2 linked regions of the Homo sapiens genome follow. The protein of the gene in region 1 purifies or fractionates together with the protein of each later gene. This does not show direct contact. Each region holds a gene or a part of one and is shown on either strand. Other genes may lie near its edges.

Region 1 (9,077 bases):
CTCAAGTGGAAGGGTTCTTTGAGCCCAGGAGGCAGAGGCTGCAGTGAGCCGAGATCCTGCCACTGCAATCCAGTCTGGCCAACACAGCAAGACCCTGTCTCAAAAAGGAAAAGAAAAAAGACTAGTAGAAAAACTCTGTAAAAGAGCCATGAAGGGAGACGGTCCCGTCAGATGCGAAAATCCTCAGGCCGGGTGCGGTGGCTCACACCTGAAATCCCAATACTTTGGGAGGCCAAGACAGGTGGATCACCTGAGGTCAGGAGTTCGAGACCAGCCTGGCCAACATGGTGAACCCCATCTCTACTAAAAATACAAAAATTAGCCAGGCATGGTGGTGGGCACCTGTAATCCCAGCTACTTGGCAGACTGAGGCAGGAGAATTACTTGAACCCAGGAGGTGGAGGTTGCGGTGAGCCGAGATTGTGCCATTATACTCCAGCTTGGACGACAAAAGCAAGACCCCGTCTCAAAAAAAAAGAAAAAAAAAAATCCTGTGTCGGGCCTCAGTTTAAAATGTGTGGTACAGTAAGATCATAGACAGGCAGTCAGAGACAGACCCAAGTACAGATGGGCATTCACTGTCTGACCAAGGCAGCCCCTTACATGAACAGGGTAAAGATAGACTTGTCTAAAAATGGCATTAGGCACCTGAGGAGCCATCTGGAAAAAGATGAAGTCAGATGCAAACCTCACTTTGTATACTAGATAAGGATCCAATGTAGTAAATATTTAAATGCTAGTGCTAGACCCAAAATAATATTAGTGTCAAGCATGACCTTTTAACTATGACTCAAATTCCAGAAGCCATACAAAAGACATGTTTTTTCTTGTCTTTTTTTTTTCTGAGACGAAGTTTCACTCTTGTTGCCCAGGCTAGAGTGCAATGGTATGATCTCAGCTCACTGCAACCTCCACCTCCCGGTTCAAGCGATTCTCTTGCCTCAGCCTCCCCAGTAGCTGGGATTACAGGCATGCGCCATCACGCCCAACTACTTTTGTATTTTTAGTAGAGACGGGGTTTCTCCATGTTGGTCAGGGTGGTCTCGAACTCCCAACATCAGGTGATTCACCCACCTCAGCCTCCCAAAGCGCTGGGATTACAGGCATGAGCCACTGTGCCTGGTCTAGAAATCTGTATTTTTACATAAAATCTTTCTATTTAAAATAATAGCCCTTCTGCTCTGGTCCTTGGGCCCTTCCTCCAAAAAATAAAAAGAGTATAATAAAAAATAAAATGTGGGCAATCTATTCAAAATTCCCCCCATGCCAAATGTTTTTGATTAAACTGCACAAGTTAAACAAATTATTATCTGCAACCTGTATGCAGTCCAGCTTATGAGAAAGATTTGAGCCTCCCCCACAGCACGGGGCTTCAGGGGCCAGATATTTTTGTTTTGTTTTTAAGACAGGGTTGGCTGGGCATGGTGACTCACACCTGTAATCCTACCATTTTGGGAGGTCGAGTCAGTAGGATCGCTTGAGTTCAGGAGTTCGAGACCAGCCTGGGCAACATGGCGAAACTCCATCTCTACAAAAAAATACAAAAATTAGCCAGGTGTGGTCTGCACACTTGTGGTCCCAGCTACTCAAGAGGCTGAGGTAGGAGGATCGCCTGAGCCCATGAGGCCAAGGCTGCAGTGAGCCATGGTCACGCCACTGCATTCCAGCCTGAGTGACAGAGCAAGACCCTGTTGAAAACAACAACAACAACAAAAAAAAAAAAAAAGAAAAAAAGAAAAAGCCAGGGTCTTGCTAGAGTGCAGTGGCACAATCAAGGTTCAATGCAGCCTCCGACTCCTGAGCTCATGTGAGTCTCCCACTTCAGCCTCCTAAGTAGCTGGGACCACAGGTGTGCCACCATGCCGTTTATTTTTGAATTTTTTGTAGAGATGGGGGTGTCTCCCTATATTGCCCAGGCTGGTCTTGAACTCCTGGCCTCAAACAGTCCTCCCACCTGGACTCCCAAAGTGCTGGGATTACAGGCATGTGTGAATACGCTTGGCCAGGGGCCAGACTGACACAGACTGTCCCTCTGTCCTTAGGGCACCCCAGGCAGAGTGGGCCCCTCCCTCCTTCATGGGAACACCTCAAGATGGTTTCCAGAAAGCCAGTATTGTGGGGCTTAAACTTAGATGAGAAGATAAAGAGCTCATCTCTGCTGCTCTCTCCCCATCCTGCACCACCAGCTCACACCTCCAGGCCTGTCCTGCCAGCTCCTTTCTCCTCCTGGAGTCCGTAGGAGCAGCTCCCGTACCTTCACTGCTTTGCTCAAAAGTCACCTTCTCATGAGGCCCACCCAGACCTTCCTATTCAAAAGAGGAAGTGGAGCTGCAGCCTCTCCAACAATGCTCGCTGCCCTCCCCACTCTGCGTCCTCCACGAGCCCTCCCCTTCTCACGCACTCTGTAACCCACCCAGAGAACCTCACACACAAGCCAACGGGCTCCTGAGGCTCCCAGCAGCCAGAGAGGTGGGAACAGATACTCCCTCACAGCCCTCAGAAGGAACCAGCCCTGCCGAGGCCTTGACCTTGGACCCTGAACTCCGGAACTGTGGGGGAATGTGTCTTGGTTGTTTAAGCTCCAGATTCTGGAGGAATCAGGTTGGATGATGGGGGCAGGGAAGGGAAGTTATCCCAGTTCAGAATAGAATGTGAACTCTCAGGGGCCCTGGGGTTGGAGGGAAGCATTTGGGAGGAACCTACATTGTCCTTGAGGCACTGGGTGGGGGGTTCTGGCTGGGTACTGTCTTCTTTTAGGTTAATGCTGGGTCCCAAAAGGCCACAACTGCTGCAGAGGGCTTGTCTGCACACAACGTTCCAGCCAGCTGACCACTTCCCCCAGACCCAGGGTTCACCTCTTTCTCAGCCCTCCCTCTTGCCTGTTCCCTCACCCCCCTGACACCCACATAGGGGTGCCTGGTCAGCATCCTGCATTCACTGTTTCCTGTGACCTGGGCCTAATCGAATTCCCCGGCCTCATTCCAGATTAGCTCACTTCTGTGCCTGGGGCTCCCTAGGTCAGCCATCCGTGAGGCATGTCCAGGAAGCCTGGGCCCGGGGTCCTTGACCTCCCCTCCCCATGATGGGTTTCCAGGGAGGCAAGATAAAGGTTCAGCCAAGATGATCACGAAGACCCAACTGGTCCCAAACTGGCGACCCGAGGCCAAAACAGCCCACAGGTGCCGCTCCTTAGACCCTCGGGGGATGCTGTCCATTTCTGGACTCAAGACAACTAAAAATACTCACCTCAGCAGATCAACTGCAGAGCTGAGCAACTGGTAATTCTGGCCACACGAGACTGAATTCCCACTTGATTAGCACCGGCCCAGCTGCCTACCAGGGTGGGCTGCCTCCAGCTCCAAAGTCCCTACACAGCCCATAGCCTCCCTCCCGGCCTGCACCCTCAACTCCACAACACGCCCCCACCCCCGCCCCCAGGTGCTGGAGTTTCTGACCCCCTGCCTCACTCAGCACTTTATAAAGGGAAGGCACATGCCCACCTCACCTGGTCCAATGAGCGCAAAAAACCCAAGACCTTGTTTGTCACCTGAGCAAACAAGGGGAGTCTAAAAGGGAAGGGACTGTCCCAAGATCACTGAGCTGGCAGTGTCAGGAAGCAAAGTTGTGTTGCCCAGCTTAGCACATTTTCCATCCGACGACACCATCTCCCTCCAGCTGTTCCCTCACCCTGGGAGAGCTGCTTCCTGGACCACTGCTCTGAAGCAGGCCCCGCCATGAGTCTCTTCTAGAGCACCATGTATTTCCTTCATTACATCTAGAGAATGTCTAACCACTCATGTGCCTGTTCACCTGTGTATCATCTGCTTCTCTTCCAAGAATCTAGGCCTCTGCCCAGACTCTTCCTTACTCAACTCCAGGGGGCGCCATTTGTGCACAGCAGCCCCTGGAGTTGTGGTGCGGGAGGTCTGGCCCCACTGAGAGAGGGACAGTCGGCTCTTGCTCACTGCAGCCTCACTGAGCCGGGCCTGTAGCAGGCCCTTACAAAAGATTTCCTGGGCCAGGCACAGTAGCTCACACCTGTAGTCCCAGCTACTCAGGAGGCTGAGGTGGGACGATCTCTGGAGCCCGGGAGGTGGAGGCTGCAGTGAGCCATGATGGTGCCACCGCACTCCAGCCTAGGTGACAGAGCGAGACCTTGTCTCATAAGAAAAAAGAACGAAAGAAAAAAAATTCCTGGGTAAAAAGCAAAGTACACAAATCGCTTGTGCCAGAAGCTGCTCTGAAACCAAGACATACCAGCTCCACCTCTCCATTGTGAAAAGCCTCTCCCAAGTCACTCAGCCCCTGGGACGTCCTCACAGCCTGCCTCTGGCGCTGGGCACCCACCCCAGATCCAGCAGAGCATGGCCGTGACATTCACCAACATTTAGTCCAAGACACCTGACCAAACTCTCCCAGAGCGTGGCTTTCTGGGATGTGCAGTAACTGTATGGCCTCACCCGGGTTGCTTGGCAATGCTGAGCCTTGGTTTCTCCTGCTCTAAATGGGATGAGGGTGAGGCAGGAGGGGGATTCAGTGAGATGCTGTTTGCAAAGCGCTTAGTATCCTGCCTGGTCTAAGGCAAGTCCTTGACATCCTCGGTAAGAATAGTGACAAATATAAAATGGCCTTGGACAGTAGAGTCCCTTACCTGTGGCCACCTTCGTGGTTCCTCTTTGCAGGAGAAGCTCCCCGCACTCCTCACTCAAGTGGCTATTGCTCTTCAGTAACCTGGGGGGAGACAGAAGGATGCTGGGTGCCTGGAGGCCAATAAAAAGGAGGTCAGATAAAAAGGAGAGGAGGGCCGGGGGGGACGGTGGCTCATGCCTGTAATCCCAGCACTTTGGGAGGACAAGATGGGCGGATCATCTGAGGTCAGGAGTTTGAGACCAGCCTGGCCAACATGGTAAAACCTCATCTCTACTAAAAATACAAAACTTAGCTGGACATGGTGGCATGTGCCTGTAATCCCAGCTACTTGGGAAGCTGAGGCATGAGAATCACTTGAACCCAGGAGGCAGAGGTTGCAGTGAGCTGAGATTGTGCCACTGCACTCTAGCCTGGGGAACAGAGCGAGATTTGGTCTCCAAAAACAAAACACAACAACAACAAAAAAATGGAGACAAGGGCAGCAAAAGGGAGGTCACCCACAAAGCGTGCATGTGTCTCGTGATTTTTTTTTCTTTTTTTTTCTTTGTGAGACAGAGTCTTGCTCTGTTGCCCAGGCTGGAGTACAGTGGCGCAATCTGGGTTCACTGCAAGCTCTGCCTCCCGGGTTCATGCCATTCTTCGTTACATCTAGAGAATGTCTAACGCCTCTTCTGGATAGATATTCAGGCGCCCGCCACCACCACGCTTGGCTAATTTTTTGTATTTTTTAGTAGACACAGGGTTTCACCATCTTAGCCATGATGTTCTCAATCTCCTGACCTCGTAATCTGCCCACCTCCGCCTTCCAAAGTGCTGGGATTACAGGCATGAGCCACCGTGCCTGGACCTTGTATTCTAATTGAGACAGGGTCTCACTTTGTCACCCAGACTGGAGTGCAGTGGCATGATCATGGCTGTCTGCAGCCTCGACCTCCTGGGGCTAAGCACTCCTCCCAACTAAGGCTGCTGAGTAGCTGGGACCACAGGCGTGTGCCACCACGACCAGCTAATTTTTTTTTTTTTTTTTTTTTTTTTTTAAATACAGGGTCTCGCTATCTCGCTCAGGCTGGTCTCTAACTCCTGGGCTCAAGCTATCTTCCCACCTCAGCTTCCCAATGTGCTGGGATTACAGGTGTGAGCCACTGCGCCTGGCCTGTGTCCCGTGTTTCGATTGCATGTTTACAGCGGCAGGGTGTGTGTGTGTGGGTGTGTGTGCGCGTGCGTGTGGTGGGGCAGTGGGGGGCTTCTCCTCCTTCAGACAACAAATATGTGTGGAGCTCTGACCTACCAGGCCCACTGCCAGATGCAGGAGGCACAAAGATGACCAAATCAGCCATAGTGGGGGTTGCGGAGTTCACATGCCTCGGGAAACAGAGGAATCAATAGGCTCTTATTGGACAGTGTGGTTACCTGCAGGGCAGGGACAGCTTGCCTGGGGGTGTCAGGGCAGGGTTCCCAGCTGAGGCCCCAAGGAGTGGGGAAGCCAGTGAGCAAGCACAGGGGAGAATTCCAGGTAAGGGAGCCCAGGCTGGAGTCCCAGAGGGGAGAGAAGGCGTGGAAGCAGCATGTGCTTGGGAGAGAGGCGGGTGCGTGAGAGGTGTGGGGAGGGTATTGGAAGTAAGGGGCATGGCTGGAGCAGGGGCAGAGGGAAAGAGAGAACGTCCCTGAAGACCCTGGGAAGCCTGGTGCTCAGCGTGACCCCAGGGAGAAACAGGCTTGTTGGGTGAGAGGGAGAAAGAAGCTTCTCCACGTCTCACGGGATGTCCTCCCCTGGACCCCACCAGCTCCCCGTCCACACCGGGCACCCACCTCTGCAGCAGCTGCTTCAGGCTGAACACGTGCGAGGGCTCCTGGGAGGCCTCTACCTGCAGCACGTGCTCTATGGCTCTCCGCTTGTAGGTCAGCAAGTTCTCCATTTCCTAAGGAGGCACAGTTGGCTGGTGGGCAGGGATCCAGGCTGCAGACGAGGTCTCTGCCCCTCCTAGCCCTGCCCTCTGCTCTCAGCTGAGCCCCTCTCGGCAAAGGGGCACACAGCCCCAGCCCTGGCTAGTCAGCCCCACGATTCTGAACGAGTCTTTGCTTCGCCTCAGTCACAGCCAGCCTGGTCTTGCCTGCGGCCAGGGACAGTTGAAGAGATCAGGTGGGATGATGGAGAGGAAGGGGAATCTCTGTCAACTGCCAAGTGCTTTGCAAAGGCATGAAATTAGGGTCCGGAGGCCACGAACCATCTGGGGTTGGCAGTTTCATCTGGTTCAACGAATGCCATCATTCTCAGTGGCAGAAAGGGACTGGCAGAAAGGGCGCATTTCTGGGGCTTCCAAGCTCCCCCATGATGTGTGGCTCACTCTGTGAGGACAGCCTCAGGCCCACTGCCTGGGGCTGCAGAGGGGGGCATCTCCCATCTACCCATGCCTGAGAATGCAGGACAAGAGGACCAAATGCCCCTCTTGACTCGCCCAGGAGGAAGCCCCTGGGGGCACTGCACTTGTCAATTCAGTGGGTGAAATGCAGAAAGAAGGGAGTGTCTGCTGTCTGCCATCTGTAAATTGGATCCTTATAATAGCCCCTGAGCTAGCTGAGCTCATGCAAGGAACATTTACTGAGCCCTTACTAGGTGCCAGGATTGGGGATGTGGTGACAGAGATGGACATGATCCTTATCCTTATGGGATCTGCCGTCATTCTTTTTTTTTTTTTTTTTTTTTTTTTTGGGAGACGGAGTTTCCCTCTTGTTGCCCAGGCTGGAGTGCAATGGCGCAATCTCGGCTCACTGCAACCTCCGCCTCCTGGGTTCAAGCGATTCTCCTGCCTCGGCCTCCCAAGTAGCTGGGATGACAGGCATGTGCCACCACGCCCAGCTAATTTTGTACTTTCAGTAGAGACGGGATTTCTCCATGTTGGTCAGGCTGGTCTCGAAATCCTGACCTCAGGTGATCCGCCAGCCTCGGCCTCCCAAAGTGCTGGGATTACAGGCGTGAGCCACCGCATCTGGCCGATCTGTGGTCATTCTATGGACAAGAAAACTGAAACTGATGAGACTTGTGTCACAACTGATAGGCTGAGACCTTGGCAAGAAAATGACAGGATGTCAGAGCTGGCCAGGTCATTGAGCCCAACCTCATTTTACACGTGCGGGAACTAAGGCCCAGAGAGGCAAAGTAACTTGCCAGGGGTCACCCAGCAGGTAAACCAGGCCAGGACTCAGACGCAGAGACAGTACTGGTTATGGGTAGTGGTGGTCAGAGGGGTCAGTCCTTGTTCCTTCAGTTCACATTTAGGGCTGTCATGTGTGGTGGTGCAATGTGGACACAGTGCAAAGGCATTCGACTGGGTGTGAGTGCAGTGTGCCGGCCCAGCTGTGTGCCCTAGAACATCTTCCACCCATGGCCGCTGCCCTCTTCCACTGCCTGCCACTGCGTGATCAGCCTGGCATTCTGCAGATCCCGAGCCACACATCCAGTTTCCAAGGGGTCCCCCACACCCCTTGTCCTGACCACTGCTAGGGGTATAAGCAGCAGAAGCCTGTCATCTGTTGGGGAGCGGGTCCCTGACTCCCCTTTCCCACCCTCTGCCGCCTCCTCGTGCTTCCCTAGTGTCCACCAAAGGAGACAGGGCTGGGAGCGCTGCCCGGGGCCCAGGTCCTCCCTAATGACAGCATGCACGAAAGCCCGCTTCTCACATCTGATTCCAGGAGAAAGAGCGGCGTGTCCAGCAAGATAAGTTTATCCACCATCTCGGGGAAGGTACAGAAAAACTGTGAGGATGCCAAAAGGGGAGAATGAATAGGGGGAAGAAGGAAAGGACACTCCCGCCTTTCCCTGGGGACCCTGGAGTTCCCCGAAACATCTTTTAGGCTGGGGGGAGGGTGCTGACCAAGAGGCCAGAGGAGAATCTTCTATCTATGGTGTGCCTTCCCCCACCACCCCTAAGTCTGCACCCAGCACTGAGCTCCAGACCTTGGTGATGGCTGGACTCCAGGGTGCGGTGGGACCGGGTATGGGGGCGTGGAAACATGAACTCTACCAGGAGTCTCCACCGTTTACACCAACTTCCTGGTATAAGGACTGTCACTGTGACAGGAGGAGGCACTTTCTGTCCCAGGTACCTTCTCCTTCCTCCTTTGTGCTCCCCTCCCCACTCCACCCAAGGGAGCCCCAGTTGGCCAGACAAAGCCATCTACTCACCATTCCGCCCACGACGCCACCTGGGGGACAAAAGAGCTGTGGGTGACATTCCCTCACTCCCTCCCCAGCTGCATACCCTAAAGCTTCTTCCCACCAGTTGGGGGGGGGGGGCACCATATGGGTGGCTGGGGGCTCAGCATCTGGGCCATGATGTCCCCTTCATCAGACCTGACCACTCAAAAGACCACATTTCCCTCATCCCTGTGTCCCTTGCGGCAGTTGCCTGAGGTCAGAGGGTACAGTG
Region 2 (5,237 bases), on another chromosome or scaffold:
CGTGAACTTAAATTGAGCTAAGGGTGGCTAGGCAGCAAATGTGATGTAGGACAAAGGGAAAGCTTCAACTTTCAGAGGATACTGATAAACAAATTTCTTGATCTGTATGGGTGCCATTTCCCATACTGACCCATATCAAGTTAATTTTTAATAAGAAAAACATGCCTCAAAACAAAAAGGCTTTGATTCTAGAGACTAGAGATTATTTTCTCTACTCTAGTTGAATAATTTCACCAGTAGCCCTACCATACATGAGTTATAACAAGAAATTGTATAACTCATACATAAACCAAGTATAGAAAGAGGTGGCATATGATAACCTGAACATACTGAATGCTGCCATAATAGAAAACTATATTCTTCTAGGTCCAGTAAGTACAAGTTTAAAAACAGGTATATATTTCCGATTCAGTGAACAATTTGCAAAATTGAAATTCAATGGTGGAAACTGCAAAGCAGTTTGATGACACTGTTTTAATAATTCATAGAAAGCATATATGTACACCCAATGAATTCATCTCTTTATTGCATATTGCTATTTTTAAAAAAACATGTACAGTCTCATAACACATACTTTTTTTTTCTCAGTACTATCTAACAACAGTCTTGCACCTAAAGACTAAGTGGTTCCAACTACTAAGCTAATAAGATATAAGACATATAATTAAGTTTACAAATTATGCATTTTCTTTTTGGCATTAATTTAAAAAAACAAAAAAAGTTTAAAATACACACCCAAGAGAGAAAAGTGGCTACTTACACCAGCACCAATCTAAAAAGTAGGTTTTTTTTTTGTTTTTTTTTTTTCTTTTCAACAATGGCACATGGAATTACCTGCACACAGTTTTCAGGGAAAGAAACCAAAAATGGAAATGGCAAAGGAGGCCCACCAGGATGGCCATATCAAAGGAGGATGATTAAAAGGGGCAAGAGGGACAGCTACACAAACTTGCTCCTTTATGTGACTTTCCCTCCACCTGTCTATTCCTTAAACTGTAAGACAAAGCCATTTTCAAAATACAGTTCCAAAACTGAGCCAGACCAAATTTATCCTGCTACAAATAGAAAAGAATATACATAGAGGCACTTTAGTTAAGGAACAGACAAAACCATCATTATATTCCAATCTTCCTCATCTCCAAGCCTTTTTGAGCCAAGTCTCTATCTGCACCTTTAACATGGTGTTATTGCAGACCTGGGTTAACTCGGGATTGGGGGAGTGCAACCTCTGCTTTGTATTTATGACTGTTTTATTTGCTAGTCATTTATTTCCATATAGTGTGTAGAAAGTCACTAAATTTGCAATGAGGAAAAGATGTAAAACCACAGCTCTTGACAACTCTTAGAGCACTATTTCACAGCTTTCACATAGCACAGATAACTCGCCATCTGTGCTAAGCATTATAGTTTATACAAATTATTTTTAAATAGTATGATTCCTGTACAGTGCACACATTGGTATTCTATTCATCCCTTAATATCCCCATTAGAATATAAGCTCTTTGGGGGCAGGGACTCTGTCTTGCTTACCATTGTAGCCCTACTATGCCTGGTACATAGTAGGAACTTAATAAATATTTGTTAATTGACTGAAAAACTCAATTTAGTGAGTAAATAATGTTCTAGTGCAACAGGACAAACTACTCTCTCCACAGGAAACCCAACCACAACAGGATCAATAGAAAGAAAAGAGAAAACGTTAGCCCCCAACTACAAATAAATAAAGCAAAGCCAAAAAAAAAAAAAAAAAAAAAAAAAAGTAAAAAAGTAACAGTCCTCTTTATATATCACATAATTTAAGGATATTAAGAGTTGGTAGGTTAATGGTAAGCATCTATATTTTATTTTCTAATGTTCATTGATTTTATTCATGTCTCCCTGAGAGCTTTATTTTTTTGGACTGAAATTTTACAGGTAGCTTTACTGACACACAATTTTAAAATGACAACATATAAACAGCAATCACTTCAAATATACTTAGAGATAAATAGATCTGGGCATCTCTGCTGATGTTGACATTTTGTGCATTCTTTATGTATCCTTTAGTCCAGACCTATATTTACAGAAAATGCAGCTTGTCCTACAAAACAGAAAATAGAAACTATAACAAAAAGGCACCCCATTAATTTTTTTTTTTTTTTTTTTTTTTTAGTAATCTTTATCCCTTCAGAGAATTCTTCCTTTAAGTCTTGGGTGAGATATTTTATTATTTTTAAGGTTTATATATCTATATTGTTAGAACAAGCATACTCTGGCAATGTTGTTCTTTAAAAAAAGCATGGATTGCATTTATATAGTGTTTTTTTCCAAAAATCTGAAGAAATTATCAAGAGCACTTGGCAGAGATAACTTGATGAAATCAGGGGAAAAAATTGATGTCCAACTTTTAAATATACAAAAACTTGATTGACATTCTACATAATTCAAATTGTGTGCAAGATGTTCTCAATAAACATTTACAGACTGTATCCCCACACCAATGTCAGAAATTCAAAGCTGGTCCTATTACTGATGTGATACATCAACATCACAATGTCAGCTATCAAAAATCATTTTAAATCTATGTTTTTCCAACAACTCCAGTTCCATCAATGAAAATAATTTTAAAGGATATCAAGCTTGGAAACCATAAAATATTTTGCAAGCTTTTTTTGTTTGTTTGTTTGTTTCTTCTGTTTTGCCTTTGAATCTAGGGAATGTCTCTTATCTCTTTCAGGAGATAGTATTGTGCTTCTGAACAGTCATGGCGTTCGGGGAAAGAAAATGAGCCACACTCAATGTGAATGCATACACGAAAGGTTTTGGAGCACATACATTAACATAAATCTTTTTAACCATACGTATAGGTCTCCAGACAACACTCAGACATCTATATACATTTTTTAATATATACACACATACATTTACATACACACGTTCACACATTCACTCACAGATGAAGGAAAAAATTGCCACTGTTTGGATTGCAAGGCAGTGTAATGAAACGTTCTAGTCACTTTAGAGGGCTGCTAATGAGCTTTCTAAAAAAAAGTATTCATGGAAAATTAGAAATTAAGTTTTGTGATTGGTCTCTCTCTGCTGCTGTCAGTCATCTGGTTGGTAATACGTTTGCGATTCCGTTTCAATTTAGAAAGGTCTTTGTCAAACACTTCTCCTGAGCGTAAAGCTGAAACAAGGTCATCAAACTCTCCGCTTTCTTCACTATTCTCTTTAGCTTTTCTCATTTTACGTTCCCTTTCACGTTGTTCTTTGAGCTGCAAATAGAAAGAAATAACCTCTTTGAGACATGTCAAAATGTTGCATTTTGTTTGCAGTAGAGGTCAATTCCTTGAAATATGGTAATGCTCCAGACACCAAGCTATGCTCATCCTATAACCCCCTTTGGATATCACAAGAAAGGGGGAATTGGAACATGGGGTCTCCATTGCAGGAGCAATGGACAACAAAAAACAACCACTCCCTTGTGGTTAGACCCTCACCACCTAGATTCTAGGTAAACTGCATGATATTCTAGTTAAAATAAGAGCAATTGAGGCAATTTGTGTTTCTGCTAATGAAAATTAAAAAAAAGGTATCACTATTACATAGACCCCAAATAACTAAAGCAAATGGTCATCAGGCCATTTTCCTTATATCAAAGGCTTAGCTTGTGTCTACTGTGGAAGCCTGAAACCTGATACACAATAGTTACTGTTATTAAAAGCCAACTAATACATACACATTGTAGACAATTTGGATAATTCAGATAAAAGGAAGGTGGGGGAAACATCTTTAATTCTACTACTGTGAACTTTTTAAAGGTTTATCACACCACTATTATTTTCTATATGTATTAACACACCTTAAAAAACAAAACAGAAAAAGATTTCATGTAGAAATCTTTTTCTGTATCATTATTCTTTGAATACATGTCTTTCAAGGACTGCATAAATATTCCATTATATGGCTGTTATATCATTTAGAACTCATCCCCTTTTGGTAAACATTTAGGTTGTCTTTAGCTTGGTGCTATTATAAAGAATGCTGCCCTTTTTTGTGTAAATTTATGATTATTTCTTTAAAATAATTGCTAAGAAATGGAATTCCAGAGCAAAGGATGTGGATAGATTTTTTTTTTAAGGCTTTGAATATACACTGTTAAATAGCCCAAGAGAAACAACACCAATGTAAAGTCCCACAGCATTCTAGAGAGTACATTGAAGCCTTCCTTCCTGCCAGGTCAGAGTGCTCTCTAAATACCTTTGACTGGGCTGCAGTCATAGAACTTCTAGGAGGTGGAATTGGTCAATTAATCATCCTCTCACCTGAGCTTCCATGCGAGCTCGACGTTCTTCTTCCTCCTTTTTCTTTCTCATATTTTCGTTTTCTTGTTTGGCTTCTGACACAGCTTGAAGAAATTGATCAAAAATGCCAAAGAACTCATCTGGTTGTATTTTGCCAGCCTCTTCCCCAAAGTGCTTCACTGCTTTAGTAAACTAGGAAAAAGATGGTTTTAAGAAGTCAATGTTTCATGAGAATTCCACAATCAAATATAAATAACTTGAGAAAGACCAAAGCCCAGATTGAGTCAAACGTAAGTTTTGTTTGCTCATTTATTTTTATTTCTTTCTTTCTTTTGGAGATGGAGTTTCGCCATCACCCAGGCTGGAGTGCAGTGGCATGATCCCAGCTCACTGCAACCTCTGTCTCTCGGGTTCAAGCGATTCTCCAGCCTCAACCTCCCAAGTAGCTGGGATTACAGGCACAAACCACCATGCCTGGCTAATTTTTGTATTTTTAGTAGAGTCAGGATTTTGCCATGTTGGCCGGGCTGGTCTCAACTTCTGACCTCAGGTGATCTGCCCACCTTGGCCTCCCAAAGTGCTGGGATTACAGGTTTCAGCCACCACACCCGGCAGTTTTTTTTTGTTGTTTTGTTTTAAGAGATGGGGTCTTACATGTTGCCCAGGCTGGAATGCATATGTTATTAGTTTTTTTTTTTTTTAATAGATGGGGTCTTACATGTTACCCAGGTTGGAGTTTAGTGGCTATTCAGAGGTATGATCACAGCAAAATACAGCCAAAAACTCCTGGGCAATCCTTCCTCTTAAGCCTCACGAGTAGCTGGGACTATAGGCATGTGCCGCTGCACCCGGCTGAGTCAAATATAACTGATGGATTTTAGTGAGCCTATATTTATCTTCAGCTGCTGAACATGTCTATTAATCATTTCTAAAGTAAAAATTGTAATACTCCTC

The links.
Region 2: the proteins of SERHL2 (region 1) and DAAM1 purify together in Homo sapiens (affinity purification with mass spectrometry; 2 studies listed by BioGRID and IntAct, with this or other methods). This does not show direct contact.

What each region holds. Positions count from the first base shown.
Region 1 is NC_000022.11:42,555,840-42,564,916, reverse strand, and holds part of SERHL2 (serine hydrolase-like protein 2), read right to left. Parts: intron 8,870-9,077; exon of another isoform or gene 8,854-8,869; coding exon 8,834-8,853; intron 8,404-8,833; coding exon 8,329-8,403; intron 6,570-8,328; coding exon 6,460-6,569; intron 4,732-6,459; coding exon 4,652-4,731; intron 1,529-4,651; coding exon of another isoform or gene 1,448-1,528; intron 1-1,447. UniProt on the Homo sapiens protein: Probable serine hydrolase. May be related to cell muscle hypertrophy.
Region 2 is NC_000014.9:59,366,667-59,371,903, reverse strand, and holds the end of DAAM1 (disheveled-associated activator of morphogenesis 1), read right to left. Parts: intron 4,476-5,237; coding exon 4,305-4,475; intron 3,255-4,304; coding exon 3,045-3,254; 3' UTR 501-3,044; downstream 1-500. UniProt on the Homo sapiens protein: Binds to disheveled (Dvl) and Rho, and mediates Wnt-induced Dvl-Rho complex formation. May play a role as a scaffolding protein to recruit Rho-GDP and Rho-GEF, thereby enhancing Rho-GTP formation. Can direct nucleation and elongation of new actin filaments.